Linked DNA regions of Homo sapiens: all the other regions are linked to region 3. Evidence: fine-mapped expression QTL. A gene starts in region 3. Each other region holds a variant in brackets. All regions are shown on one strand. Distances are from middle to middle. Region 1 has its middle 12 kb from the start of LLGL1. Region 2 holds the start of MIEF2 (mitochondrial elongation factor 2). Region 3 holds the start of ALKBH5 (alkB homolog 5, RNA demethylase). Region 4 has its middle 10 kb from the start of FBXW10.

Region 1 (7,782 bases), 29 kb before region 3:
AGGGCAGAAGCAGTGGGGAACCTAAGTTATTGGCTCTGAGTAACCTCTGGCAGGTTCGGGGGTCTCTGGGGACCTCAGTTCCCCATCCAAACCAAGGGACAGCTGCTGGCCCTTGCCCTCTACTCTGAAGCACCATCACTCAGGCTATGCTGCCACACTGTGGACACAGGAGGAACTGCGGCAGCAAGCGCCTCACACCTAACTGGAGGACCCCAGCCCTGACACTGCCCGAGCCCTTAGTTTTCCATCTCTCACAAAGACAGTGGATTTTCTTTTTTCTTTTCTTTCTTTTTTTTTTTTTTGGGGGGGGGGACGGAGTCTCACTTTGTCACCCAGGCTGGAGTGCAATGGCGCGATCTCGGCTCACTGCAACCTCCGCCTCCCGGGTTCAAGCGATTCTCCTGCCTCAGCTTCCCAAGTAGCTGGGATTACAGGTGCCTGCCACCATGCCCGGCTAATTTTTTTTGTATTTTTAGTAGAGACAGGGTTTCACCAGGTTGGCCAGGATGGTCTCGATATCTTGACCTCGTGATCCGCCCACCTCGGTCTCCCAAAGTGCTGGGATTACAGGTGTAAGCCACCGTGCCAGGCCTTCCTTTCTTTCCTTTTCTTTTCTTTCTCTTTCTCTTCTTTTCTTTCTTCTTTTCTCTCTCTCTCCTCTTTCTCTCTCCTCTCTCTTTTAGACAGTTTCACTCTTGTCGTCCAGGCTGGAGTGCAATGGCACGATCACAGCTCACTGCAACCTCTGCCTCCCGGGTTCAAACAATTCTCCTGCCTCAGCCTTCCGAGCAGCTGGGATTACAGGCGCCCACCACCAGGCTGGCTAATTTTTGTATTTTCAGTAGACACAGGGTTTCACCATGTTGGCCAGGCTAGTTTTGAACTCCTGACCTCAGGTGATCCACCCACCTCAGCCTCCCAAAGTGCTGGAACTACAGGCGTGAGCCACTGCACTCAGCTAAGAAAGTGGTTTTCTTATTGATTTTGACAGTCCTCTGCACAGCAGCACCAGTGATCCTACATCTGTTCACATCACTCCTCTGCTCAAACTCTCTATGGGAATCTAGTGGTGTGCTGGAGCCCTCTGCAAGAGCCAAATGGCAAATTTTCAAGAACTTTTGTGAGTCAGTTGTTAAAGTCATTAAAAATTAATTATATAAAATTAAAATTACACTAAAAACTAAGGGTAATATTAAAAACTAAGCATTTCCTACTTATTTTGCCACATTTTCCTATTATCTGTACTCTTGGATTACATCTATTGTATCTGTATGGTGGAAACACTATATATTGGGGTGTTACTGCACATTTCTTCACAGCTCGATGTTCAGTGACCTTACCTTGATCAGCTGCAATCAGCCATGATAACCCCTGGACTTAAGCAATCCTCCCGCTTAGCCTCCTGAGTAGCTGGGAATACAGGGTGTGCTGCTGTGCCCAGCTCTATAGTTTTCTAGACCAGTACCATCCAACAGAAATATAATGCAAGACACATATGTAATTTTCATTATTGAGTACCCAGATATAACAGTAACAGAAAACAGGTGAAATTAATTTAAATAGCTTTTTTTTTTTTTTTTTTTTGAGACAGAGTCTGGCTCTGTTGCCCAGGCTGGAGTGCAATGGCACGGTCTCGGGCTCACTGCAACCTCCGCCTCCCAGGTTCAAGCAATTCTCCTGCCTCAGCCTATTTTATTTAACCCAGTATGTCCAAATTTAACATATGTCCAAAATAGTTTTTTTTTTCTTCTTTTTTGGGGGGGTTTTGAGACAAAGTCTCGCTCTCTCACCCAGGCTGTAGTGGCACGATCTTGGCTCGCTGCAATCTCTGCCTCCTAGGTGCAAGCCTGCCTCAGCCTCCCAAGTAGCTGGGATTACAGGCGAGCGCCACCACACCTAATTTTTGTGTTTTTAGTAGAGACGGGGTTTTGCCATTTGGTCAGGCTGCTCTCAAACTCCTGACTTCAAGTAATCCATCCACCATAGCTTCCCAAAGTGATGGGATTATACGTAGGCCACCATGCCCAGCTCAAAATAGTATCTTCAACAAGTAATCAATATAAAGTTCTTAATGATTTACATTGTTTTTTTCATACTAACTCTTCAAATTCTGGTATTTTACACTAAAAGCACATTTCAATTCAAACTAGCCACATTTCAAATACTCAATAGCCAAGTATCAGTGGCTGCTGTACTGAAGAACACAGGTCTAGATTTAAGAAAGTGATGAAGAGGGCCGGATGTGGTGGTTCACGCCTGTAATCCCAGCACTTTGAGAGGCCGAGGTGGGCAGATCACCAGGTCAGGAGATCAAGACCATCCTGGCTAACACGGTGAAACCCTGTCTCTACTAAAAAATACAAAAAATTAGCCAGGCGTGGTGGCGGGTAGTCCCAGCTACTCAGGAGGCTGAGGCAGGAGAATGGCATGAACTCGGGAGGCAGAGCTTGCAGAGAGCCGAGATCATGCCACCGTACTCCAGCCTGGGCGGCAGAGCAAGACTCCGTCTCAAAAAAAAGAGAAAGTGAAGGAAAATATTAATGATTCAGATTAAATTTAAAAGTACTGCTATAGCTGAGAAATTTTAATCCAACTAATATTTGAGGATGAGAAAGCAGATGATATATCAGATTTAATGGCAATAACTTTACTGGGAGAAGGGCATGTAGGGGCTGATCCATGGCCTCCACAAATATCGGGTCATTATCCCTGGGACCTGTGAATGTCACCTCATAAGGAAAAAGGGTCTTTCGAATATAATTAAACATCATTACATAGGGGACCGGGTGCAGTGGCTCAGTGCTTTGGGAGGACAAGGCAGGAGGATCACTTGAGGCTGGGAGTTTGAGACTAGCCTGGGCAACACAGTGTGAAGTCTTCTACAAAAAAAAAATTTTTTTTTGAGGACAGAGTTTTGCTCTTGTCGCCCAGGCTGGAGTGCAGTGGCACGATCTTGGCCCACTGCAACCTCCGCCTCCCAGGTTCAAGCGATTCTCCTGCCTCAGCCTCCCAAGTAGCTGGGATTACAGGCGCCCACCAAGCCTGGCTAACTTTTTGTATTTTTTAGTAGAGATGGGGTTTCGCCACGTTGGGCAGGCTGGTCTCGAACTCCTGACCTCAGGTGATCCACCCACCTTGGTCTCCCAAAGTGCTGGGATTACAGGTGTGAGCCACCACGCCCGGCCTACAAATTTTTTTTTTTTTTTTTTTTTTTTGAGACGGAGTCTTGCTCTGTCGCCCAGGCTGGAGTGCAGTGGCGCATCTCAGCTCACTGCAAGTTCCACCTCCTGGGTTCACGCCATTCTCCTGCCTCAGCCTCCCGAGTAGCTGGGACTACAGGCACCCGCCACCATGCCTGGCTAATTTTTTGTATTTTTTAGTAGAGACAGGTTTTCACCATGTTAGCCAGGATAGTCTTGATCTCCTGACCTCGTGATCTGCCCGCCTCCACCTCCCAAAGTGCTGGTATTACAGGTGTGAGCCTCCGCGCCTGGCCCAAAATTTTTTTAAAGAAATTAGCAGGGTGTAGTGGTGTGTGCACACCTGAGGTTGGGAGGCTGAGGCAGGAGGGTCACTTGAGCCCAGGAGTTTGAGGCTGCAGTGAGTCGAGATCATGTTACTGCACTCCAGCCTGGGTGACAGAGGGGCCCTAAATCCAATCGTGAATGTCCTATTAGGAGAGAGGCAGAAGCCAGGCACAGTGGCTCACACCTGTTATCCCAGCAGTTTGAGAGGCCAAGGCAGGAAGATTGCTTGAACCTGGCAGGTCAAGGCTGCAGTGAGCTGTGATCCAGCCATTGCACTCCAGCCTGGGTGACAGTGAGACTCTGTCTTTAAAAAAAAAAAAAAAAAAAAAA[AG/G]AGGAGATGTGGTACACAGAGGAGGAGGCCATGTGACCATGGAGGCAGAGACGTGAATCTGCCCGTTCCCAAGTCAAGGAATGTTAACAGCTAACAGAAGCTGTCAGAGGCAAAGAACAGGTTTTCCACTAGACAGGCAAGCCCAGTGATGTTGAGTTTCCCAGAATTTGAGAGAAATAAATTTGTCGTTTTAAGCCACCAGGGTTGTGGTGACTTGTTATGGCAGCCACGGGAAACTATTACAAGCAGGTATGATGCAAGTCCCTTTGTCATATCATGGCTGAATTATAAGCACAAGCAGACTACAAATACAGTAATTCAGCAAAAAAACTAAAATAGATTTCTGTGAGAAAAGATTGGTTATATGGAATTTATAAGAATATATATGTTTTAATAATTTAAATGCTGGCCAGGCACAGTGGCTCACGCCTGTAATCCCAGCACTTTGGGAGGCCGAGGTGGGTGGATCATGAGGTCAGGAGTTCAAGACTAGCCTGGCCAACATAGTGAAACCCCATCTCTACTGAAAATACAAAAAATTAGCTGGGCATGGTGGCAGGTGCCTGTAATCCCAGCTATTCGGGAGGCTGAGACAGGAGAATCGCTTGAACCCGGGAGGCGGAGGTTGCAGTGAGTGGAGATCACTCCACTCACTGCACTCCAGCCTGGGCAACAGTACAAGACTCCATCTCAAAAATAATATTTATATGCTATACTTCACATCAGTAAAATTTATAACTTTATGCGTATATGACATCATATACTAGGTCTGTCTTGTATCTCCAGCACTGCGCAATCTCAGCTCACTGCAACCTCCACCTCCTGGGTTCAAGTGATTCTCCCACCTCAGCCTCCCGAGTTATCTGGGACTATGGGTACGCACCACCATGCCCAGCTAATTTTTGTATTTTTAGTAGAGATGGGGTTTCACTATGTTAGCCAGGCTGGTCTCAAACTCCTGACCTCAAGTGATCCACCTGCCTTGGCCTCCCAAAATGCTGGGATTACAGGCATGAGCCACTGCGCCTGGCCAGACACTATTTTTTGAATGCGTGAACGTGACCTCTGGCCAGTCAACTTCTCTGGGCCTCAGTTTCCCCTTCCACACAAAAGGGTTGGAGGAATGGGATGGGGTCCTAGCGGGGTGAGGGATGGCACCAGCTGTTAGAGCATCTACTGTGTAGAAGACTGGGCTAGGGACAGGGGTTGATGGGACTCAGCACCTGGCCTGAGGCCCTAGGAGATGGCTGGGAACAGGCAGATCCAGAATCAGATCAGGCAGATCCAGAATCAGATGTAGAGTTCTAGGGACTACTCAGAGGATTATGTTACAGAGATAGAGTGCTACTGTACAGGTAGAGAGACAGCAGGAACTGCTAGGGCCAAAGCCCCCTCCTCTAGTCCTCCTATCTCTCCATACTACAGGGTGAAGGGCCTTTTTCACCCAGGGATTGGGAAGAGGCTGAATCCTTTTTTTTTTTTTTGAGACAGAGTCTCGCTGTGTCATCCAGGTTGGAGTGCAGTGGCGTGATCTCAGCTCACTGCAACCTCCGCCTCCCAGGTTCAAGCAATTCTCCTGTCTCAGCCTCCTGAGTAGCTGGGATTACAGGCACGCACCACCGTGCCCAGCTGATTTTTGTATTTTTAGTAGAGAAAGAGTTTCACCATGTTGGCCAGGCTGGTCTCGAACTCCTGACCTCATGATCCGCCTGCCTCAGCCTCCCAAAGTGCTGGGATTACAGGCATGAGCCACCACGCCCGGCCCGAATCTTTTTTTTTTTTTTTGAGACAGGGTCACCCAGGCTGGAGTGCAGTGACGCGATCTCGGCTTACTACAGCCTTGACCTCCTGGGCTCAAGTGATCTCCCACCTCAGCTTCTGAAGTAGCTGGGACTACAGGTGCATACAACCACACCTGGCTAATTTTTGTATTTTTGTAGAGACAGGGTTTTGCTGTGTTGCCCAGGCTGGTCTCAAACTCCTGGGCTCATCCATCTTGGCCTCCCAAAATGCTGGGACTACAGGTATGAGCCACTGTTCCTGGCTGAGTCTGACTTTTTTTTTTTTTTGTTTTTTTGAGACTGAGTCTTGCTGTCGCCCAGGCTGGAGTCCAGTGGCACGATCTCGGCTCACCGCAACCTCCGCCTCCCGGGTTCAAGCGATTCTCCTGCCTCAGCCTCCTGAGTAGCTGAGATTACAGGCGCCCAGCACTACGCCCAGCTAATTTTTGTATTTTCAGTAGAGATGGAGTTTCACCATGTTGGTCAGGCTGGGAGTTTTTTTTTTTTTTTTTTTTTTTTGAGATGGAGTTTCGCACTGTCCGCTGGGCTGGAGTGCAGTGGCACGATCTCGGCTCGCTGCAACCTTCGCCTCCTGGCTTCAAGTGATTCTCCTGCCTCAGCCTCCCAAGTAGCTGGGATTACAGGGGCCCGCCACCATGCCCAGCTAATTTTTTGTATTTTTAGTAGAGACGGGGTTCCACTATGTTGGCCAGGCTGGTCTCAAACTCCTGACCTCGTGATCTGCCCACCTCGGCCTCCCAAAGTGCTGGGATTATAGGCATGAGCCACTGCGCCTGGCCAGAAGTCTGACTTTTTAATGGCAATGGAAAATAGGGTCCTCCACAAAGACGGTTCCTCGCACTCCCCCAGCCCTTCTCTGAGCCCCTATCCCATGCCCCAAGAGTCAGAAGCTCAGGCATGGAGTGGGGGATGCTTACTTCTGCCATTTATACTCTGGATGACATTCTGCAAGTCACTTTCTCTCAGATCCGGTGTTTCCTTCTCCAGGGGATCCAAGGTCCACTCTGCCTAGCCCAGTGTCTACCCCTCCAGGCCCAACTAGCCCCAGACCACACTTGAGACTCTGGCCCCTCTCTCTTCAGACCCTCGCACTAGTTTTTAGACCAAGCCTGGGCCAGTTACTTGCCCCACTCTGGAGTCTCTCTTCTCTGGTAAATGTGGAGGTAAGCAGCTTATCCAAGTTTCCACAGCAAGAATTTGGCCAAGCAGACTAGCTCTGAGCACTAGAACAGAGTAAGAGACTCTAGATAGAAGCCCTTTACCAGGCATAGGGAGCCAGGTCTGAAGTCTGGAGGGACTAAAGCCCTCTGGGCCCCAGCCTTACCCATTGAAAAACATCTGCTTCATGCCAGTACCTGCACTCCACACTATCATGAGCATCTTGAAAGGAGGGACCAGAGTTTTGCTCACTATTGGGGTCCCAGTGTGGCTTGGTATACAATAGGAACTCAAGAATTTTTTTTTTTGTTTTTTTGAGACAAGGTCTTGCTCTGTTGCCCAGGTTGGAGTGCAATGGCACAATCTCGGCTTACTGCAACCTGTGCCTCCCAGGCTCAAGCAATTCTTGTCTGTCTCAGTCTCACTAGTAGCTGAGACCACAGCTAAACGCACCTGGCTAAATTTTTGTATTTTTAGTAGAGATGGGGTTTTGCCAAGTTGCCCATGCTGGTCTTGAACTCCTGAGCTCAGGTGATCCACCGTGCCTGGCCAAGTATTTGTTTAATGAGCAAAATCACTCGCATATTTTCCACAAAAGCCAGGTTCTCCCTTGCTTTTGTGCCTGCCATCTCCCCCTTCACCAGCACCAGCCTCTCAGTGATCATATCTAAAAGAGGGACTTCCAGAACTCCAGAAGGTGTGGTCCCTGGGCACCTGGACATTGTGGTTTATGAAGTTCACCCTCCTTGGAGTGGGAGAAAGGACAGTGGGGTGAGGGCAAGTCCACCTTCAGCCATAAACCCAAGGCTAGGCACACAGGAGGCCCAGTGTCCAAGACCAACCAACTCCTCTGGGACGCTGGCGGCCAATGAGCTAGCTCTGCCTCCCCAACCCCTGTTTCAAGTTTAAGAAAGTAAAGGGATTAAGGAAGCACCAAAGGCAAGCCCTCTCTTACAACAACATC
Region 2 (7,782 bases), 78 kb before region 3:
TTTATTTATTTTTTTGAGACAGAGTCTTGCTCTGTCGCCAGTCTGGAGTGCAGTGGTGCAATTTCAGCTCATTGCAACCTCTACCTCCCGGGTTCAAGCAATTCTCCTGCCTCGGCCTCCCGAGTAGCTGGGACTATAGGTGCGTGCCACCACGCCCAGCTAATTTTTGTCTTTTTAGTAGAGTTGGGGTTTCATCATGTTGGTCAGGATGGTCTCGATCTCTTGACCTCGTGATCCGCCCGCCTCGGCCTCCCGATGTGCTGGGATTACAGATGCGAGCCACCACACCCGGCCAAGATGCTACTTTTTAAAGTAAACTCTACCACCTCCAATTGACCTCAAGCACTCTTGCCAAAGTGCCAGGACAAGCCACAGGACTTACAGAAAACCCTCAACAGCTGCGTATGAAAGCACCAAGACTCCCTTATCCAGCCTGAGTTATATATACATTAGAATTTTTTCCTTTTATTCTTGTTCACATCTTCGAAGCTGAGCTTCGTTTCAAAAGGAAGGATACCAGAGGCAGGAGGAGGGTCACTTGGGAGGGGAGGTGGAATCTCCCTCCTCTAGCCCCCTTGCTACCTCTTAACAGGCTTCAAAGTCAGAATACAGCCATCAGCTGAGAGCAGTTCATTTTGGCACACTGGGAGGCCGGCTGTGCACACCGGACCTCTCTAGTGGGGGATCAGGTCCTCTGCTCTCCAGTGGGGCCTGGAACAGCTCCAGTGAGATGCCCCAGCTGTGGGCTGGGGGTGCAGCACAGAGCCTCAGCTCCCCCAGGACCCTCAGCTGCCTGAAGAAAACACTCACCTGGCTGGAGGGAAAAAGGGCCTTGCCCTGAGGTATCAGGTGGGTGGCAAGTCATACTGAGCTCCCGCTCAGCAAGAAAACTAAACGCACAGAAGACAGCAGGAAAATGCCATCCTTTAACAGCCAAAAATCTGTCCTTCAGGGGCACCAGGTGACTCCAGCCCCTGGGGGACAGAACAAACACACCATACCTACCATCAGGCACCAGACGCCTCAAAACGCCTGGAGCTAGGGCCGGAAAAGGCGTTAAGTCACCTTCTCTCAGCAGAAATGTGAAGCTGGCCTTCAGCTTCTGCCCAGGATGGCAGAAACCACATTCTGTTGGTGGATTGGTTGCTGGTGATGGACAGAGCCAAAGGTCCTGGGGTTGGCCCCAAGAGCTGAAACGGTGCTTGCAGGAATGGCTGGCACTCCAAGCTGCCTGAGGCAGCCCAGCTGCACTCAGGTGACAGTGACCCAAGCTCTCTGGGCTCAGGGTTTATGGCCACCATAGCCCAAGCACATCCTGATGCCCTGGGTTTAAGTAATGTACCCTCCTTTGTTCTGGCAAAAAGCTAGAGAAAAACCACTATTCAAATCCCTGGAAGGGAGGTGGGTGCAGCTCCCCAGCATTAGAAAACATGGCAACCACCCGTTTCCACCCACCTAGAGCAGCCCCTCGGGCTCCTGTAGGCCACTGTATAGCGCATAGCCAATGTCGTCAATCTCCTCCTCACGCAAGCTGCTGAAGAGGTTCACGCTGGGGTTGAAGTGGCAGGGCAGGCTGGCCTGCTCCAGGCTGCCGATGAGCAGCTCCAGGGCTTGCAGGAAGCGCTCACCCAAGGCCTCCTCCGTCCAATCCACGTTGTCCTCCCCCAGACGCAGGACCACCTGGGTCAGGTGACCCCGGCCTAGCTGCCCCAGAGCCGAGCAACCACGGCAGACAGCACACAGCAGCAGCAGCAGCCGCCGGCGAGTCCCAGCGTCATGGTCGTCCAGGGCTCGCAGCCTAGCAGCCTCCACTGGATACAGGTCCTGCAGCCAGAGGTTCCCCGCCAGCCCCTCCAGGGGCCAGGCCAAGAGGAGGCGGTCGTCAGCATCGACCCCAGGGACTGCCACAAGCACAGCCACAGTGAGCTCCAGGCGTTCGTGCTGCACCTCGAGCAGCAGCTCCTCCGAGGCCATGCTGGGCCGGATCAGGCACCCGAGAAGGCTGCCAATGGCCGGCCAGTTGACAGAAGCAGCCAGCGCCTTGCGGAGTAGCTCCAGCAGGACGCGGGAGGAGAGGTAGCCCCCGACCAGGAAGCGGTCCCAGGGGCTGCTCCCACGGGGGCAGAACTCAAGCTGCGTCCTGCGCACGGCCCAGCAGCGAGGGTCCCTCGCCACAGTGTCCACGCCCGGCACCAGGCTCCACAGGCCCGGCTCCAGCACCAGTGGCACCAGGAGACGCACATGGTCCGCAGCCCCCGCCTGCAGCCCGTCGTAGAGCGGCCCCCCAGGCACGAATGCCCCAAAGGGCAGTTCCGGGAACTTGCTCCGAAAGTAGGCCTGCAGCTCCAGGGCGATGTCGCCAGCCAGCTGTTTGGCCAAAGCCACCTGGGCTGCTGGGATGGTCACACGGTCCCGCTCGAAGGCCAGCAGCCTCTCCTGCAGTGTCAGACACAGCGGTGCTGGGGAGCTGAGCTGTGGTGTCACCTCAGGATCAGTTTCTGCAGGCCCTTCTGCAGAGTGAAGGGGCGGGGAACATGTCGGAACAGCCTGTGATTAGTTAAGAAAACGCCACCGAGAACTAGCTGTGTGATGTCCCAGGGCCTCACTTTTCTCACCTGCAGTGGCACCTGAGAAGGCACTCAGTTCAGATCCTCACATATAGTGAGCTCTTGGTGACGAGTTCTCATTGCCCCAGAGTCCAACACCCTGGCGACAACAGCTTCATGCAGAGTAGGTAGGTATGTCACGCCCCTCTGGACCTCAGTTTCCCCATCTAAAGCTCCCCACCATCACAACGCTACCACCTTGCTCCAGGAACAGGGCAAAGAAACACCACCCCCATTAAATATCTGAGGAGCCCACAACCGAGAGAGAAGCAGGGACTCGCGCAGGGTCACACAGTCAGTCAGGGCAAAGCCTGGGCTGCGTCTCTTGAATGTGACACCAAAAGAGGGGAAGGAGTGCCACTCACCTGGGGCAGACGACGAGGGGGCCAAGGGCAACACTGGCTGGCTAAGGGCAGCAGGTGGAGGCCGGGGCTGCAGGTGTGGTGTGGCCTTGAGCAGGCTCAGTTCCTTCCAGCTGTCTGCCTTGGTGTCATCCTCATCCCGCGGGCTAGTGGCCCTGTCAATGAACTGCAAGCACAGTCACACAGATCAGTGTATATGAAATCTGGGCAGTCATAGCAAAGCCCAGGGCAAAGCAGACCAGCGTGCTGGGTGGAGAAGCAGGTGCCCTGGGCTCCCATGAAGGCCTTGGGCAGTCCCCACCCCTCCCCAGGGCCCCTCTGAAAAGCCCAACCCTGTTGTCCTCCTCTAGGAGCTTCAGGCATGACCCGCCCACTTGGCCTTACCCGCTTCACGGCCAGGGTGGCAATGCCCAGCACAGCAGCCCCGCCCACGCCCAGCACCAGGCGGGCATTGGCCAGGAGGAAGTCCACCATGCTGCCCAGCCCTTCGTCGCTACGCCGCTTCCCCCGTTTCTGGGAGAACTCTGCCATGGTCTGCCTGTAAGAGAGCCAGGGGTGAAGGGGCAGCTCAGGTGCAGGTGGCCAGGCTGGGAGAGGGGCTGCTGTGGACAGGTGCTCTAGCTGTCCTTATGCTGGGTAACAGAGCTGAGCCCATGAGGGGGGCTTTCTGAGAATTTCTCAGAGAAAGGGGCCACCCATCCACAGGGGAGGACACCGAGGCCCTGGGAAATCACGTAAAGTACCTGAGAAAGGGCAGGGATGGGATATGAGCTTGGGTTTTGGGGTCCCAAGCCCCCATCTCTCATGAGGAGATGAGGGAGCTGCCAAGCCCCTTCTCCCAAAGCTGCCTGGAAAGAAGCTCACAAAGGCCCTGAGGCTTGTGCAGGTATAGGAAGGGGCCTCTCTCCCTGGAGCCCACCCTCCAGGACCTCTGACATCACCAGGGTGTCATCATCACTACCCCTATGTTACAGAGCTACAGGCTGCCAGCTCACAAGTGAGTGGTAAGGTCTCCAACCCATGACTGCAAGGCCTCCAGACTCTCATCCGCCCACAGAGTCTGACGGATTCTCCCTGTGCCAGGTGCCCAGGTCCTCAGCAGCAGCCTCATCTGAAGGTTCCTACCCAGAGGGCACAGCAGCCCTCTATGATAACCTCTTCAGAAGAGCCCAAAGTCCAGAGAAGACCAACAATTTGGGGCCCCAGCCAGTCTGGGGGACCACTGGGACCAGTT[A/T]CCCCCAAATCTTGACAGGGTAGCCCAAGAGGCAGAGCTACCAAGTCAGAGCACGGGCAGAGTAAGACGGCCCAAGCTGCCCAGGCAGGCCAATGCAGATGTGCTTGTCAGGGTTGAAGCCCCTTTGGCAGGGCAGAAAGGGCTGCCCAGTGCCTCTGTACAGGGGGCTCTCTGGGCCTCTCAGTCTTGGGACAATGTGTAGGTAGTGGTGGGTGATGCTTCTCAACTGCCGGAAGGCCAAGCAACACAGAAAGTAAGGTGAAGGCCTGGGCCCCAGCCTGTTTGCTCACCTGTAAGATGGCATAGGCAGCAGTGAGGGGCAGATGTGGGCAGCCTTGAAGTGTGTGGCTGGGTGGGGGCCAGCACTTGGGAAGTGGAGGCAAAGATCTCCTAGGGCCCAGTCCACATTCCTCACGTTCTGCGAGGGGGACACTGCCCTCAGGCCCTGGGAGCTGAGAAGGGCTGGGACCTTAGGACATCAGTTAGACACCAAGCAGAACTCTCCCGGGGAGGCCTGAGCAGATGACCATGAGGTCACAGCCTGCCCGGGCACCAAGGACTTCTACCTGCCCTGCCAGAGTGTGGGTGCCAGGGGCCCAGTTGCCAGGTGACCAGATGCCTGGAGTAGCTGAAGCCTGAAGCGCTGTGTGACTCAGCCCCGTACACCCGCCCATTCGCCCCAGACTAAAAATAAGACGGTCTCTGGGGCGATCCCAGGCCAACCGGGTGACCCGCCACGGCCCCAGGGCCGGTTTCAATCTCCTCATCGGTGACTCGGGGATCAATACTGCCACCCGCCCCCAGAGAGACCAGGAATCTACTTTGCAAACTGTAAAGCGCTTTAAATACTCCCAACCTGTCTAAATTGGGACTCAGCCCCATCTCTGGCGGGGTCGCGCAGGCCTCAGTCCACAGCCTTCCAGCTCCGAGAAGCAGGAAAGGGCACGGGTGGCTGAAAATAACCCAAGTTTGCGCAGCGGGGCCCTGGAGGCCGTTTGGCCTTCCCTCCTCCGCCAAACCTGCCTGCCCTGGGCCCGGGCGGAGCAGGCCGCGCAGCAGCCCTAGGTGGGCGGGTGACGCCCCGTTCGCAGGATAAACCAAGAGACCGAGAGGGGAAGGGGGCTGGGCTAGGATTCGAACGCTGCCCTTGGTCCCCCAAAGGTCCCCTCCCCGCCTTCCCCAGCGGTGATCGCGGGCCACGCCCCCGATCTGCGTTCCGTCGCGCGCCAAGCCCCGAGCCCGGTGACCCTGGGGGCCGCCCCGCCGCGCTCCAGCTGTACCTGCGTCGCAGCTTCCGCACGACGACCGGAGGAGGCAGCGGGACCACGGCCCCGGAGCTCAGACCAGCCTGGGAATGGAACGTGAAGGACCCTGGAACCCAACGACTAGGGCCCCGGGGGCAGCCGCGGACTTCGCAGCACGCAGACAAGCAGGCCCTAACTCCAATCGGAGCGCTCGAGTCCAGCGCACAGGTGCCAAAATACTGCGCGGTTCAGCCAATGAAGGGCAGGTCCCGCCCCCCAGCCGACAGCCGCACTCCCTCTGGGGCGGGACTCCCTGACGCAGTCTGGATTTAAAGGTGCAGGGCTGCATTCCGAGACCGCGAACAGGTGACGTGACAGGCGACCCTCCAGGACGTCTGTGCGTTGTAATGTGAGCCTCCGGTGTGGAGGAAGCTGTCTGGGCCCCGTTCCTTCTGGGGACCAGGTAGAGAGGCTGCACATGGCTAGAGGCCCGGCACATCCAACCTCTTAGGTCACCTCTGCGAGAGAGTGTCTTGGTGGCCTCATTCTTACCTGTGGGCCTGAGGGGCACAGCGCCTACCCCTGCCACCTGCTCTGTGCGAGCTTGTGTGGGCCATTCTCCACCTGGGCATCAGTTTTTCTCCTGTAAAATGGGGACACTAGACCCCCTCCTCCCCTGCGAAGGATGGTTGGGCATATAACAGCTGTGGCTCATTTATTGGGGTCCTGCTATGTGTCAGCCAGGGCGAGCCCCCTTGAACAGCAAGGACCAAGACGGATGCTTCTCTTCTGGAGCCTCCCTTTGTAGGGGGGTACGAGCACAGGGGTGCTGACACTAAGTGGGAATAATAACCTGGCGCACAAAACAAAACAAAACGGAATAATAACCTGCCACTCACTGAGCGCCTGCTGTATGCTGCGAGCTACACGTGCATTCTTTGTTAATTTGCTCATGGTGACAACCTTAGAAAGTATTTTACAAATGAGGAAACTGGGTAGGGCGCGGTGGCTCACGCCTGTCATCCCAACACTCTGAGAAGCTGATACCAGAGGATCACTTGAGGCCAGGAGATCAAGACCAGCCTGGGCAACATAGCAAGCACCCCGTGTCTACAAAAAGTATAAATAAGGCCGGGCGCGGTGGCTCACGCCTGTAATCCCAGCACTTTGGGAGGCCGAGGCGGTTGGATCACGAGGTCAGAAGATCGAGACCATCCTGGCTAACACGGTGAAACCCCGTCTCTACTAAAAATACAAAAAAAAAAAAAAAAAAAATTAGCCGGGCGTAGTGGCGGGTGCCTGTAGTCCCAGCTACCCGGGAGGCTGAGGCAGGAGAATGGCGTGAACCCGGGAGGCGGAGGTTGCAGTGAGCCGAGACTGCGCCACTGCACTCCAGCCTGGGCGACAGAGCGAGACTCTGTCTCAAAAAAAATAAAAAATAAATAAAATAAATAAATTTAGCCAGGTGTGGTGGCCTGCGCCTATAATCCCAGGTAGTCGGGAGGCTGAGCCCAGGAGTTCGAGGCTGCAGTGAGCTATGATCACACCACTGCACTCCAGCCTGGGCAGCAGAGCAAGAAGACCCTGTCTCAACAAAACAAAAACAACACATGAGGAAACTAAGTCCAGAAGCAGGAGAGCTAGGACCCGAGGATCCAGGTGTCTCACTACCACCGGTCAGCCAAGTACAGGCACTTCCTGGGCCTCTGCGCCCCGGGGCCGAGGTTTAGAATCTCTCTGAGGTCAGGGCCAGCTTCATGTGCTGCAGCAGCGCAGGTGACGGTGCCTCGACCAGCGGCCGTTACGGCCCCTGCCCTGGGGCGCTGGGACTTAAGCCTGGAGATCGTGGAAGCCTCCAACTCCAGCACAGGGGGGGCCCGCACTCCTTGGTGCCTCCGCAGTCTTCGAACAGACGGGGAAACTGAGGCCCTAAGAGGCCTAAAGCCTACACTTCCCCGCGGAATGCGGCGGGCGCGGGCGGGTTAAAGGGGCGGGGCCGGCGCTGGCCCAGCCCGCGGCTCCCCCCAGCGCCCTCGCCCCGGCGCTCCCTAGCCCGGCGCGGCCCGGCAGCGAGAGCGGCGCCATGGAGGCCACCGGGGTGCTGCCGTTCGTGCGTGGCGTGGACCTCAGCGGCAACGACTTCAAGGTGAGCCGGGCCGGGCGCGTGCCGGGCCTCCCTGCAGGCCTTCTCTTCCGCCCGGCCCGCTTGGCCTCCGCTTCCTGTCCCGCTCGGCTCCAGGCCCTGCGTGTCCCAGGGACTGCGGCCGGGGCGGGGTGGGGCTCTCCCCTGGCCAGGAATGGACCTCCGAGGCCTCCGCCCAGTGCCTGTACGGGGA
Region 3 (7,782 bases):
GCAGTGATTAAAGATAGCAGCAAGTAAGCAATTAGCCTTGAAGTAATTATTCTAATTAGTCCAATCAGAGTCTGTTTTAATCTGCCCCATGCAGCCAACAGGGAATAGGAGAATGAATGACAGATAAAGTGATATGAAGATAAAAAATATTTCCCTAAAGTACAGCCTTAAGAGGGGATCCACCCAGGCCTAACATGGGAAGGTTACAAAAAACAACTGACGACTAGGTTTGGAAAGGAGTTTGAAGCACTTCCAGAAGATTCTGTGAGGCCTTGTTCTAAATGCCCAGGTTTAGACACTGCTGAGTCAATGTTTGTGACGCACCAACATCCATGCTGATCACTATTAAATATAAAATTGTATTCTTGCCATGCGGTCTTAGAGGGGTACAGATACCATTGCCACCAACACCAACTGAAGTCTAAGATGCCTACTACTAGAATCCCTCCCCATCTGCACCGCACCACTGTTTTCACCAGCCCCTCCCTTCCAATCTGCAGCTTTACTGCTCATCACCTCTGGGCTAGGATCTGTACCAGGAAAAGAGAAAGCACCACTTCTTACCAGTTTATATGCAGGATTTGACGACGGGCACTACTAATAGGCAGGTGTTCACCCACCTGCATACCAAGGTAAGCTAAGTATGCAGGTGCAAGAAGATTTAATTAGTGGAAGGGTCCAGACCCTAGAGCAGTGACTCTCAACTAAGGATTCTGCACTTCCCCTGCCTCGGCATTTGGCAGTGTCTGGACACTTTCTGGTTGTCATAAAAAACACTATTGGCACCTAGCAGATAGAAGCCAGGAATGCTGCTGAACAGTCTACAATGCACGAACAGCCTCAACAATGAAGCATTATCAAGCCCTGAATAACAATAGCACTGTTGAGAAGCCCTGATCTAGAGTTCACCAGAGCACCCTCAACCACAGTCTCTACTAATGAACTCCATCTGCCTCCCATCAACATCCACCCCCTCTTACCTATGGCTACTCCTGCTACTGCAGCCAAAGACACTGCTGTTGTGTATTTCTCCACCTTTCTCTGCTTGGCTCATTCCTAGTCACTTTTCACATTCCAGTTCATTTCCTCCCCTAAACTTCCAACACTCCAAAGTGGAAAAGATGTCCCCCTTCAGTGTGCTTCTGCAGTTACCTTCCTGGGCTATAACTTATCCTCCTGTCTGAGGCCTCCATGGGGCTTGAACTACACGAAGGGAAACTGTCATGTTTCAGGCTCCACCAAATCCCTAGTTCCTTCCCCAGTGAGAGAGCAGGGGATCACTGAGTGGTTGTATATGAAAGCAAGCACCCATTTAAGTACCTACCCTGTGCCAGGCCCTATCTTAGACAACAAATCACCACATTTAATTCTAATAGGCTTTGGAAGTTGGCATCATCCCCACTTACAGATGGGAAAGCCAGCTCAGAGAACGCCTACAAGATCCCAAAGCAAATGAGAGAAAAGCTGGATTCAAAGCCTGGGGCAGCACTTTTCAGGACATGGCTGAGCCTCCCACACTAACACCACAGCCAAGTCTGAATCCAGAAAGGGTTGACAGGGACTGGGAAAGCTTTAGGACTTTACTATTCTGAGGAAAAGATGAAGAGAATTTTCCTGATGATGCAATCCTGTTGCTGATCACTAACAGACCTGCATACTAAGAACTCGAAACTTCTGTTCTTAAAATACAGGGTGGGCATGTGTTAAGGAGAGTAGTAGTCCCAAAACCAAAAAAAAATGCCTTGTGATCCCCTCATTAAGCACCAGACCACTACTAGACCTCCTGACAACCACCCTGAGGGCCAATGACTACGCAGAAAATTAATATCCCGCTAAGAGACCAAATGGTCCTTGTGTGAGGTAATTTTTGCACTGAGAACCCGTCAATGGGGTCAGACCCCAACCTGCCTTACACAGCAAGCACCCGGAGAGGGTGTGTCCTGGAAATCCCATCTTAAAGCATTTTGCCAAGACATCCATCTAGGAGCGCCATGAAGATCTGAGAAGCTCAGAAGCCCATTATAAGAAGGCATCTGACAGCTAGGCTGTCCTCTAAGTTTCAGATGCCTAAAGAGCTAAAGTATCGCTTCTGCTACTACTGACTTCCCACCTTCCCACCAGGACGTCTTGGACATTACAAGGCTCTGCTGCCATCCCCAACATGGAAGCAGCCTCAGCTGTTAGACTCAAATGAAACAGATGACCTAATCTCATATCAAGAAGGCTCCAGGGACCCTGCTTCTCCTCATGACTTTGGCCCTACTGACTCACTTCAGAACCTGGGCTGCTCACGACAAAAGCCCAGTGTGTCCTCAACCTTGTATTTGGTGGTGGTCAACCAAGCTGCTCTGAGAACAGCTGCGGTCTAAACCTAAGATGTTTTGGGTATTACTGAATTACATTACTAGGTTTACCTTTTTCAGGACTGGAAGGAGGCCGCTTCCAAATAAATTTTCACTTCACATAAACAGCAAAGGTGTTCCCAATGGCAATCTCCTCTGGGGGCCAGGGCACTGAGCTAATTCTCAGCAGGATCTGGGAACCGAATATAGGCCAAAAGCCTAAGTTCTGCTGCTCACGCAACTGTAAGGCCAAACAGTCAAGAGACCAGCTGTATTCTGTTGTATTCAGTCCTGACTACAAGTAACACGTTCTTACAAAGAACTGATGGGCTCTTCTGCAGCCAGGAGGGAAGAATTTTAAGAGTGTGCTGCTCTGTATGCCTGGCCCAACCACTAATCTGTTCAACTCCAGGGAAGTCACTCCCCCTCCTGGGAATGGAGAATGTGCTTCAATTAAATAATCTCTGGGGCCTTTGCCTGTGACTACTTTCTCTGTTAAGGAATCCAAAAATGGCAGAACAAGAAAGACTTTTAGATAAATTAAAAAAAAAAAAAATTTTAAAGCATAGATTTGTAAATGGAAGGCCAGAATGGAAAACCGGAAAATCACAAAGGGACTTATGCTAAGAAATGGATGGTGGGAAAAAAAAAAATCAAAGGGAACAGCCTTCTGAAAAGATGGCTTTCGATGAATTCTCAGCCAAGTCAGTGATCCCGTCAAACCTGCCTTCGGGGACAGGATTTCCACATCGGTTCCCTATTTTCTTGCTATAGGTATCTTAAACACAAAACCCTTCTCTCGCTCCCTACAATCTACAAACAGAAGAACTGGTCAGAACTGTAAAAAACGCAGACTCCTACGGGCTGCTGCTTTCTGGGCCAGGGTGGGTAGCTAAGGCAGCAGGCGCAGGGCCGCCCCCTCCACCCGGGTGGGTTACCTGAGCACAGTCACGCTTCCCCTGCGCACCGGCAGGGAAAGCACTGGTTCCGACACCCGAATAGGCTTGAACTGGAACTTGCAGCCGAAGCACAGCGCAGAGTCGCTAAAGAAGGACACGGACACGATGGGGCGCTCGAAGATGTGGATGGGGTCCACGTGAGACACGATGCAGCCGCCGGGCTGGTAGTCGTTGATGACGGCGCTGTTGACGAAGCCCTCGGGGATGACGCGGTGCTCCACCAGCTTTTGGATCACCAGCTGGTGCACCCACTCGGGGATCTCGTCCACGTCGCCCGGCGGGTAGAGGCGCTCCTGGCCGGGCCCGCGCTTCTGCAGCTGGGCGCCGTAAGTGTAGCCTTCGCCGAAGAAGTACTTGTTGCGCAGTGGGGCCCGGTCCACCGTGTGCTCGTTGTACAGGCCCTTCTCAGCGCGGGACACCACCTCGTCAATGCGGGCCTCGATCTTGGCGCACTCGTCCTGGCTGAAGAGGCGCATCTGGCGGATGCCGCTCTTCACCTTGCGCGCCTCCTCCTCCTTCTGCAGCTGCTGCTCCTCATAGTCGCTGCGCTCGGGGTCCGAGTCCTCCTGATACTTGCGCTTGGCCCCGGACACAGGGTAAGGTTCGGCGGCAGCGGCGGCTGCGGCTGCGGCGGCTACGGCGGCTGCGGCAGCGGCGGCGGCCTCCCGGCTGCCCGCCTTATAGTTGTCCCGGGACGTCATGGACTTGAGCTTCTCACGCAGGTCCGTGTAGCCGCTGGCGGCCGCCATGGCCCCCACGACGCTGCTCTAGGGTCCTCCGGGGCGGGCGGGGCAGCCGGGCATGGCTCTAAGGGGACGCGCCCCGGGGCCCCCGGAGGGAGGGGGGTCCTTAGCGCCGAACCCCCATGCGTGAGTGGGGGACCCGGCGGGGGGCGTCGAGGGTCCGGGCGTGGGGTAGGGCCTCAGGAGCGGCGGGTCATGCAACGGTGGCGACAACGGGGCTTCTTCCTCCTCCACCTTCTCCACGTCCCGCGGGGCAGGGGCGCCGGCAGCGCCTCATGCCGCGGAGGGCTGCTGCGGAGACGCGGCCCGACTCCCGACCAGACCCTCGGACGCCCGGCCCGGCCCGCACTTTAAAGCTCTCCGCACGACGTCACGGGCAGCCAGCCCGACGTCCGCCAGCGCCGCTCCTTAGCGGGCTCCTCACCGCGCACGCGCAGTGCTGCCGGCCACCGCGGCTCCGCGCGCTACGGGCATGCGCGTGCGTGCAGGCCGGGTCGGCAGAGGCGCCGGCGCAAGCGCAGACAGGAACCGCTTGCCGTCCGCCGCCCCTCCCCCACTCTCTGAGGGGCTTCAAGGGAACGCTCTCAAATAGCAACCTGTCTTCACGCCGCGCCGCCTCCAGGACCGAAGGGCTCCCTCTACAGGGGTGCGCTCATATTGCCAACAGTGTCGCCGTGCCGCGTCACGGCATCGTCCGAACGCCCGCAGACGCCTCAACCCCAGGGCGCATTCACCAGGGAACCGCCACAACGTAGGCCGCTCCGTTACCTCCCCCTTTGGCGCTTCCACTTCTTTAATTGGGCCGTGGGCCACGCGCCGGGCAGGCCCTGACTGGAGTTTCCGGAAGTCGGTTGGTAATCATGCGTGTCAATCAGGCAGTCTCCTTAGCTACTGTGTCCGTCACTTAATTAGCGGCTGGGCGAGCAGCGAGGACCCCTAAAGGAGAAATGGGTGGTTAAATAAGTGCCTGAATGGAGACTCCACCTGAGTAAAGCCCTTAGAACGCCTAAGGAAACTTCTGAAACCCGCGAAAACTTCTCAGACTGCGGGACCTGCAGCACCCGGCCCCAGTTCTGAACCCAGATAGGAACGTCCGGCAGAAGCCAGACGCGCGTTGTCGGGGTACAAGCCAGCCTGCCGCCGCTGCCGCCGCCGCCCGGAGCGGACGTTTCACGAGTCACGTCCCGGTGACGGCGAGCGTGGGGGCGCGCTGGGGTTGGCGTCGAGCCTCCTTGGTGCTGGAGATGGGCGTGGGGGCACCTCCTACGGGGACTCTGGAAGAAAACTCCAGGAAACGAACGGGCGCAAGGCTAAGGCTAAGCTATAGATAATGACTACAGTCAATTCAAAAAAGTTTTGAAGCAGTCAGCAAAGGCGTTGCCGGGCGCGGGGCCTCACGCCTGTAATCCCAGCACTTTGCGAGGCCAAGGCGGGCGGATCACTTGAGCCCAGGAGTTTGAGACCAGCCTGGCCAACATGGCAACCCCATCTCTACAATAAAATTTTTAAAAATGAACTGGGCGTGGTGGCGCGCGCCTATGGTCCTAGCTACTCAGGAGGCTGAGGTGGGAGGATCCCTTGAGCCCAGGGGATTGAGGCTGCAGAGAGCCGAGCTGGCGCCACTGCACTCCGGCCTGGGCGACAGAGCTGCAAAACAAAACAAAAAGGCGTAGCCGTGCAGGATGCACTGGAGGGCTCCAACAAATGGGGGTCGGGGGGGATCTGCTGGAAAATCTCCCATGTCTCCCAGGATAAAGTTCCCCTGCTTTATTTGGCACTCAAAGCTTTTCTTCAAGACTCTTCTGGCCTTGGCTCCTCCTCTCCTCTCTTTCCATGTACACTGAGCCCCAGCCTGGTCCTCATCCTGTAAGCCAGGTCTACAAACATACTGTGTCTCACCTCCTGGCCTTTGCCCAGGCTGTTTGCCATGGCTGTTGCCCATGCCAGTTCCTTATCACCCGTCTCCCTCTCTCTCTCCCCCTTCCCCTCCTCCTCCTCGTTCTTTTTTGACAGAGTCTCTGTTGCCCAGGCTGAAGTGCAGTGGCACGATCTTGGCTGACTGCAATCTCGACCTCCCGGGTTCAAGACATCCTCCCACACCTCAGCCTCCTGAGTAGCTGGAACTATGTAGAGGCGTGTACCACCACACCCCGCTAATTTTTCTGTTTTTAGCAGAGATGGGGTTTCACCATGTTGTCAAATTGGTCTTGGAACTACTGGGCACAAGATCCTCCTGCCTCGGCCTCCCAAAGTGCTGGGATTACAGGCGTAAGCCACTGCGCCCAGCCTGGAATGGACATTTTTTTAAAAAGCTTATCAAGTTTTTACTATGTGCCAGGACCTGTGCATATACTAGCCCAATTAATCGTCCAAACAATTCAATGAGGAGGGCATTATTATTATTACCATTGTATATATAGGGAAACAGGCCCAGAGAGGTGAAATGACTTGCCCAAGGCCATACAGCGAGTATGTGGCCTAGTGATGATTCAAACCCAGGCTGCCTGGTTCCAGAATCTGTGCTGTCCCTCACCGGGGCTCCGAGAGGGGAGAGTCCTAGCTCAAGAGCAGTCAGGGAGGAACACAGGGAAGCTTCCAATGCAGTGTCCGTTATGGGAGAGGCTGTGTCAACCTAGAGAAGAGGTGATTCACATTTTGGCTCAACCTGGATGATCTACTTCCAAGAAGCCGCTTGTAGTCTGTGTGGGAGGCCCCAGTTGTATTCTGAAAGCCAAAAGGGCCCCCTCGTTTTCACTCTGCCACATCATCCCTTCCTGAGCCTCATAGTTCAGCTTGACTAGGGAAAAGGTTTTGGGGCAAAAGAATTAGCCTGACACCCCCTCCCCCTCACACACACCATGTATGATCTCACAACAATGAGAAATGAGGGGCAGAGGGCAGGCCTCAGGGCTGCCTCATGTTGGAGCCCACTGTGCTCTGTTTTGGGGGTCCCTATACTGAGCATCAGCGCCGCAGGCAGAACCCCAGGGGTTAAGTGAGCTGCTGCCAGGCATGGCCCCTGCACAGTGGTAACTTGATTGACACCACACTCTTTCTGGTGAGTTCCTTACTTTCCTCACCTTGGGGTCTGCTTCTGGGGAAAGCCAACCCAAGGCAGTGGTGAAAAGCAGGACAGCCCTGTGGCATTTGTATCAGGGGCTCTTTCTTGATCCTCTCCATCCCAGGATGGTCTGATTGACCCCCTAGTCCTGCCAGCTGGGCCTTCTAATCTCTCCCCAGTTACCAACTTCTCCCCACCCATCACCACCACTAGAATCTATGACAAGTTTTCCAGCTAACACTGCAGCAGCCCCCTCTGGTCTCCCCAACTCCTACATTCACTCACCGTTCAGTGGTCAGAATGGCTTTAACAAAGTACAGTCTGTGCAGGTTGTGCCTCCCCTTCCCCCTCTGGAAAACCTTTGAAGGCTGCTCATGGCTCTTGGGATGAAATTCTAAATTTTTTTTTTTTTTGAGACCGAGTCTCGCTCTGTCGCCCAGGCTGGAGTACAGTGTCGCGATCTCGACACACTGCAACCCCCGCCTCCTGGGTGCAAGTGACTCTTGTGCCTCAGCCTCCTGAGTAGCTGGGATTACAGGTGCATGCCACCATGTCCGGCTAATTTTTGTATTTTTAGTAGAGGAGAGGTTTCACCATGTTGGTCAGACTGCTCTCAAACTCCTGAGCTCAAGTGATCCACTGGCCTCAGCCTCCCAAAGTGCTGAGATTACAAGTGT
Region 4 (7,782 bases), 550 kb before region 3:
CCAGCACTTTGGGAGGCCGAGACAGGCAGATCACAAGGTCAGGAGATCGAGACCATCCTGGCTAACATGGTGAAACCCCGCCTCTACTAAAAATACAAAAAATTAGCCGGGCGTGGTGGTGGGCACCTGTAGTCCCAGCTACTCGGGAAGCTGAGGCAGGAGAATGGTGTGAACCCAGGAGGCGGAGCTTGCAGTGAGCCGAGATCGTGCCATTGCACTCCAGCCTGGGGGACAAAGCGAGACTCCGTCTCAAAAAAAGGAAGGGTTACTAATTGTGCAGGTGACACTAAGCTAGGAAGGAGAGCGAATATACTGGATAAGGAATCATGAATCTCAAGTATCTCAGCATAAAGCAATGATGTGATGAAATTAAAGTAAAATCATTTTAAATCCTATACTGTAAACATCCTTAGATACAAATATAGGTAACAAGTCAAGTTATGCTAAAGTAATATACTCTTGAGACAGGCCAATCAGACTGATTGGAGAAAAAAAGATTTGCCTTGACAAAGGTCACAGGAACAGACTCAAAATTTATATTTCTGGTGAATCCCACCAGAGACTTCAGGTTATAGCTTCAGAAACCCATTTAAAGACAGTTTGCCATTTGCCTAAAGGCTTGATGAATGCTTGTGATTAATCTTAGGAAGCTTATCTGTCAAAAGAAGAATGAAATAATCAGGGGGAAAGGACTGAGAACCATAAAGGAAGGTGGAAAATTTCATATGAAAACAAGAACACCTGGGGCGTGGGTATTACGTGACAGTTCTTAAAAGAACCATTCTTTGAATGAGAAATCAGACAAGTCCACATATTCCAGGTTACTTTAGAGGAGAGGAGTAGGGCCCCTTTCCAGAGGTCACAGGGACTAAAACTCAGACACTGTTAAGACATTTCTTCTAATCCTTGCTGTCCCCAAATAGAAAGGACTGCTGTGTGAGGCAGTGAGGCAGTGAGCCAGTGCAAGGCAGGATGGCTGAGTCAGATGTTGTGTGTGGATTTGCAAACTTCAAGAAGTTTCTCTGCTATGCATTTTATTCCCTTTTATACAATGTCCATGATCTAATAAGGAAGGTGGCCGGGTGCGGTGGCTCACGCCTGTAATCCCAGCACTTTGGGAGGCCGAGGCGGGTGGATCACGAGGTCAGGAGATCGAGATCATTCTGGCTAACACGGTGAAACCCCGTCTCTACTAAAAATACAAAAAATTAGCCGGGCTTGGTGGCGGGTGCCTGTAGTCCCAGCTACTCGGGAGGCTGAGGCAGGAGAATGGCGTGAACCTGGGAGGCGGAGCTTGCAGTGAGCCGAGATTGTGCCACTGCACTCCAGCCTGCGCAACAGAGCGAGACTCCGTCTCAAAAAAAATAAAATAAAATAAAATAAAATAAAGGAAGGCAATATGATGTGGTGGTTAAAAGTCCAGTGTCATTCTACCCACACTTGAATCCCAGCTCTGCCCCTCACTCACCATGTGACCAGAGTGACCTTGAACAAATTAGCTAACTGCCCCGGACCGCAGTTTCTCCATCTGCAAAATAAGGATGATATAAGCATCTACCCAATGGGTGTTCTGTGAGGACTGAGTTAATGTGCAGGAAGCACAAGAACGGTATCTGGCACATAGGAAATACGCAAGTTAGCAATTTATTATGATAACTCTGCAATCTTTTCAGCCACTCTTGAAGGTTCCTGGTCATCCATTCTGGGCACAGTGTGACATTTACCTGAACAGAGAGGAGAATGGCACTAGAAGATGAGGGAGATTTGGTGCCTAAAAATTACTACAAACAGGCAGGGCGCAGTGGCTCACGCCTGTAATCCCAGCACTTTGGGAGGCCGAGGTGAGTGCATCACGAGGTCAGAAGTTTGAGATCTGCCTGGCCAACATGGTGAAACCCCATCTCTACTAAAAATACAAAACGTTAGCTGGGTGTGGTGGCAGGCACCTGTAATCCCAGCTACTCGGGAGGCTGAGGCAGGAGAATTGCTTGAACTCGGGAGGCGGAGCTTGCAGTGAGCCAAGATCACGCCACTGCACTCCAGCCTGGGCAACAGTGCGAGACTCCGTCTCAAAAAAAAAAAAAAAAAGAATTACTGCAAACACATAGAGAACAGCACCATATGGAGCAAAAGAGAGCAGCTGGAGAATGTTTTCATTCAGAGACCCCATAGGATTTCAAAAGCCAGCTACCATCAGCAGTTATTTTTGCCCCCAAATCACCCTAAAATGCAAATCCCATCACTGTAGCTGGCAAAGGTCTGGGATATGGCTCCTGGAGTCTAGGGAGCAGTCCCCACCAAGGACGGTGCTGGCTTCTCGGGTTCCTCTCCCAGATCTACAATCCGGATGGCGTTTTCCTTCTTGGAAAGCCAGAAGGCAGCATAGACTGGTTCTGAAAACTTGCAGGCAAACTTGTGAACCAGAGTCATGGAATCATACTCTACGCCATAGAAGGAAAGGATCCCTCCTGGGAAGTCAATATAGACCCCGAGCCTCCAGAAAGGGCCAGCTTTGAGTGGGGTCTCCATGTCACTGTACCAGGCCGTGAACTCCTTCCCGTTCCATTGGAGGCTCCAGGAGAAGTTGTTTCCGGAAATGCAACTGCTGCGCTCCTCCCCTTTCTGGTCGATGCCTTTGCAGGTCAGGCCAACATAGGTGCCTGCCCCGAAGATCTCCACCTCAAAATAGTACCTGTGCAGGTACAGACTCTGCTGGGACAGCACCTGCCGCCAGTGCAGGAACCTGCTGGGGAGGTCCGGGTAGGGATGCTCCCAGGGCGTGGTGTTGGTGACCTTGCGGTTCTCCTCCTGCAGCCGGAGATACTTGTGTGCTGTGTCCGGGTCGAACGTGATGTCATGCACATCTGAGGAGACACAGAAGGCAGGAGAGTGGTTCAGGAACTGACAGCTGATTCAGACAGAATGCTTTAAACCCAGCTGGGCTCCAAAGCACATATGAGAAAACATCCATTTCTCTGTTCTCTATTTACCCAGGCTGCTGTTTCCCTAGGAAATGAGGTGAGTGAAGACCAGAAAACAGAGAGCACAAATCATCTACTCCCTTCCCTTATGAAGCTCAAATTGCTTGACATTGATGATGTTATTTGATGAACCGAATCAAGAAATATATTAATTTACTCATTCATGCATTCATTCATTCATTCAACAAACACGTATTGAATGCCTGGCATTATCCTATCCAGTGTTGGCAAGTGTTTGGGGAAGCAGGTACTCCTATACCCACATTTGATCCATTCATTCATTTTTTTTTTTTTTTTTTGAGACGGAGTCTCGCTCTGTTGCCCAGGCCGGACTGCGGACTGCAGTGGCGCAATCTCGGCTCACTGCAAGCTCCGCTTCCCGGGTTCACGCCATTCTCCTGCCTCAGCCTCCCGAGTAGCTGGGACTACAGGCGCCCGCCACCGCGCCCGGCTAATTTTTTGTATTTTTAGTAGAGACGGGGTTTCACCTTGTTAGCCAGGATGGTCTCGATCTCCTGACCTCATGATCCACCCGCCTCGGCCTCCCAAAGTGCTGGGATTACAGGCGTGAGCCACCGCGCCCGGCCCATTCATTCATTTTTTAAAATATTTAACCAACATCTTAAAAATGAATGAATGGATCAAATGGAGCATGAAGAATTCTCAAACACGCCCTCATATTCTCCTCCCACTCCCAAAGAATAATAGGGTCTCATGCACCCCATTGCTCAAGTCAAGCTCTATGTCATTTCTGACATTTGTTTTGCCCTCATCCTCTTCCCCTATCCTCACTACACACACAGGAAGCAGTAACTCCTACGGATTCTACCACTTCTCTCCAGCCCCCTGCTTTACCCCCGACCTAAGCCACCACTCATCTCACTCAGACTAGTTCAGCGGGTTTCTGACTGGTCGTTAGCTGTTCTCTCTTGCCCCCTTCAAGACCTTCTCCACAACAGAGCCATGCTGCTTGTTTCCAGCTGTAGGCTGAGGCCAGTCGTGTTATTCTAGCTTAATAATTCTAGTTATTCATGGTGCCCCTTGCTCTTATGATAAAGCAGCAACCCCTTGCCCTGGCCTACCAGGCCCCACGTCCCTGGTCCTTTCCTGTGTCTCTGACTCTCTCCCTTGATTACTACATTTCCACCGTGCTGACCTCAGACCTACTCAACACTCAATCCTCTTTGAGCCTTTGGTACAGCCTGTTCCCTCTGAGATGTGATCATGCCCTACTCTGAGTCTGGTGATTCCTACCAATCCATTCAGGCTACAACTGAGAGTTCATGTCCTCGAAGAGGCCCTTTGTGACTCTAACTCACTCTCTCTCAGAGCACCATGGCGTTTTAAACTTGGCACCCCTCTCCATTTGTAATAATAGATATTCATGTGAGTGTTTGTTTCCTGCTTGTCCTCCCTCTAATCTATGAGCTTCACATTTTGCATGGGATTCTTCTCTAGCTCAGAGAAGATGCTCAGTATATACTTGCCAAATGAATTAGCATATTAAAGGCTATTAAAACAATCCCATAATTAAAAAAGTTCTCACTGGTGCAGCGGCTTATGCCAACACTTTGGGAAGCTGAGATGGAAGAATCACTTGAGGCCAATAGTTTGAGACCAGCCTGGGCAACACAGCAAGG[C/G]TCCATCTCTACAATTGTTTAAAAATTTTTTTTTTAATTAGCCAGATGTGGTGGCATGCGCCTGTGGTCCCAGCTACTCAGGAGACTGAGGGAGGAGGACTGCTTGAGTGTGGGAGGTCAAGCCTGCAGTGAGCCATGATCAAGCCACTGTACCCCAGTCTGGGCAACAGAGACCCTGTCTCAAAAAATATACATACATACATATATATATGTCTACATGTATATATATGTAAACATACAAAATATGTGTTTAGTGACTGTTTATGTCAATTAACAGAAGGCTATTACTAGTTAAGTTCTTGAGGAATCAAAAGCTACACGTGGATGTTCAACCATATGAGGGATTGGTATCCCAACCCCTACATTGTTCAAGGGTCAACTGTGCAGTGTTTTAAAAATGCTAATGGACCAAGTCAATAACACTTAATGATAGGTCAATGAGTTATGCAATTCTGGCCAAGTCATACATAGAAATGAATCACTTGGTAACTAGCCAGGACTCTTCAAAGTGCTATGGTCATGAAACACAAGGATTGAAAGACTGATCCAGACTGAAGGGGACTAAGAAGACATGGAAACATCTGTGACCTTGGATTGGACTTTGGGCCAGAAAAAAAGGGCATTGATGAAAGACTTGGTGAAAGCTGAATAAATTCTGTAGATTAGTTGATAGCATTGTAGCAATGTTATTCCCTGGTTTTGATCAATGTATGGTAGTTATGTAACGTGTTAACATTAGGAGAAACTGAGTGAAAGATATATGGGAATTCTTTGTCTTATTTCCGTAATATTTTTGTAAGTTTCATATTATTTCAAAATGAAAAGTTAAAAAAATTGTTTAAATTAAATTTTAAGAAATGTATCATTTAGGGATAGACATGAAGTTGCAAGAACCTGAAACCTAGATGAGAGATGGCGGTTCTGACTTAGCAAAGCACTGCACTGATATCAACAACTGGAGAAGGGGGTGCCGTTCACAACTTACATTGGAGGAACTGTTCCCTGGTGCTGGGCTCAGGTTTGGAAGTCCAATATTTGCGCTGAACAATGGCAGACACTTGAGTTCTGATGTCATACTCCTCTAGAAAATCAAGAGAGTTGTGAATGCACACCTGTCCAGGTGGTCAGGAGAATCTGCAAATCAGGACTTCCCAGCCACCCTTCCCTGGGCTTCCTGGGGAAAGAAGGGGCTGAAGCCTGGTAATGTTTCACAGAAATACGCTCAATAGACTACATTTCTTTCATAGGTAAGGCATAAACCACTGAAAAAGTGATCCAGACCGTCTTGGATTTAACTTAAAAGTATAGGCATCAGCAACCTGGGAAGCTACTCACAGAAATGCCAGCCGATGGCATAATATAAGCATGACTAAGTGTCCTTCTCTGGGTCTCAATTGTAAAAGAAAATCATCAAGATGAGAGTCCATTAGTAACATACCCTGTCTGAAGCATGGCTTTGAAAATGAGACATTTGGCTGGGCACGGTGGCTCACACCTGTAATCCCAGCACTTTGGGAGGCCGAGGTGGGCGGATCATTTGAGGTCAGGAGTTCGAGACCAGCCTGACCAACATGGTGAAACCCCGTCTCTACTAAAAATACAAAAATTAGCCAGGTGCCTGTAATCTCAGCTACTAGGGAGGCTGAGGAAGAAGAATCTCTTGAACCCGGGAGGCAGAGGTTGCAGTGAGCTGAGATTGCGCCATTGCACTCCAGCCTGGGTGACAGAGCAAGACTCTGTCTCACAAAAAAAAGAAAAAAAAGAAAAAAAGAAAATGAGACATTCCCCTGATTTCATCCTCCCTTCCCTGACTCTCTCTCACCTTCCTATCATCTACTGCTAGAGACACACTCACTATAGTCCATGGCCCAGAATGTGTCTCACCTTCCTTGGAAAACTCCTGGAGCTTTTTCTTATAGTTCTCCAGCAACTGGATTAAGTGTACAGTGGATTCCGTGATAACTTTGCGGATGCCCGAGAGTTTATCCTTCAGCCCTATGTAAACACTAGGGAAGGTGATGTCTTCAGTGTTCTTAAACTTGCAGTACTCCTGCAGAAAAGGAAACAGCAGAACTTGCTGTGGTTTCTGTATTTCTAAACTCGGGCTTCTCTCCTCATTAAGTCACTTTTTGCATCTGTAAAATGGGCTGACGGTAATGTGTCCTTCACAAAGAAAGTACATGTAAAGTGTCAAGCTCAGGGTCTAACAAAATAGATAGCACTTCTCTAGCTGCTAGACCCTCAGAATAAGTGGGATTTTAAAAAAAAGAAGTGAGAACGTGGGATTTTAAAAATCAAGATGTACTAGATGGCCATGAACAGCTCCAATACACAGTCCAGACTGGGGACCAAAAAATAAAGAACATTCTTGCTTTGTTCATGCCGTCAGTACTTGTTTTTTGACAATTTAAACACAAGCCATGGTGGAAAATGGAGGAGCTCTCAGGCAGGAGTGCTGCCTCTTCCTTGTCAGTTTCATCCAATGCATAAATTTCTGTAATTCTTGTACCTTGCTTTAGTATTTGGAAAGTGTTTTCACACTGATAATCACATAGTTTCATGTAAGTTTTGAAACAACGTGTGATCAGGAAAGATGCTTTCAGATATAACACAGTATCAAACTTCAGCTGCAACTGAAGCATTAAAGAGCAGAACAGGTACAGCAGAAAACATAGCAATGAAAACAGTTGTATGAAAATGATTAGATAGAGCCATGGAAATCAAAACCAGAGAATTGATAGAGAAAAGGGTAATTCAACATTTTAATGCTATATACTGTACAAGACAAAAGTAGCATTTTAAATCAGTGGGAGAAAGGATAAGTTATTTGGATAAGTTATTCAATAAATCTTGTTTTGAATGCCTAACCAAAAATTTGGGGGGAAATGTTATCTTTTGCCAAAATAAATAAATATCTTTTTTTTTTTTTTTTTTTTGAGACATAGTCTTGCTTTGTCACCCAGGCTGGAGTGCAATGGCGCGATCTTGGCTCACTGCAACCTCTTGCCTGCTAGGTTCAAGCGATTCTCCTGCCTCAGCCTCCCAAGTGGCTGGGACTACAGGTGTGCGCCACCATGCCTGGCAAATTTTTTTTATTTTTAGTAGAGACAGGGTTTCACCATGTTGGTCAGGCTGGTCTCAAACTCCTGACCTCATGATCT

Evidence for each region. PIP is the estimated chance that this variant, and not a neighbour inherited with it, causes the effect.
Region 1: its variant is fine-mapped to the expression of ALKBH5 in whole blood (INTERVAL, PIP above 0.99). The same link has a PIP of 0.9 or more in monocytes.
Region 2: its variant is fine-mapped to the expression of ALKBH5 in whole blood (TOPMed, PIP above 0.99).
Region 4: its variant is fine-mapped to the expression of ALKBH5 in hippocampus (GTEx, PIP 0.96).

The regions. Positions count from the first base shown.
Region 1 is chr17:18,209,964-18,217,745 of GRCh38, reverse strand. No RefSeq gene overlaps it. Among named protein-coding and RNA genes, the nearest start is that of LLGL1, 12 kb to the left of the region's middle. RefSeq lists an enhancer at 66-165. The variant AG/G (reference allele first, on the strand shown) is at 3,858.
Region 2 is chr17:18,258,438-18,266,219 of GRCh38, reverse strand. MIEF2 (mitochondrial elongation factor 2) reads right to left here and starts at 5,558. Exons shown (of 4, transcript NM_139162.4): 1 at 5,483-5,558; 2 at 3,353-3,506; 3 at 2,972-3,134; 4 at 1-2,510. The coding sequence starts at 3,499. The coding sequence ends at 1,456. It overlaps FLII (FLII actin remodeling protein), which reads left to right and starts at 7,482. Exons shown (of 30, transcript NM_002018.4): 1 at 7,482-7,592. The coding sequence starts at 7,530. RefSeq lists enhancers at 4,009-4,628, 4,629-5,249, 5,871-6,000, 7,610-7,782 and a silencer at 7,391-7,782. The variant A/T (reference allele first, on the strand shown) is at 4,203.
Region 3 is chr17:18,180,512-18,188,293 of GRCh38, reverse strand. It overlaps ALKBH5 (alkB homolog 5, RNA demethylase), which reads right to left and starts at 4,466. Exons shown (of 4, transcript NM_017758.4): 1 at 3,281-4,466. The coding sequence starts at 4,050. RefSeq lists silencers at 2,316-2,365, 3,589-3,740, 3,899-3,988, 4,069-4,368, 6,505-6,799 and enhancers at 3,634-4,471, 4,579-4,818, 4,879-5,078.
Region 4 is chr17:18,729,959-18,737,740 of GRCh38, reverse strand. It overlaps the pseudogene TRIM16L. Among named protein-coding and RNA genes, the nearest start is that of FBXW10, 10 kb to the left of the region's middle. The variant C/G (reference allele first, on the strand shown) is at 4,622.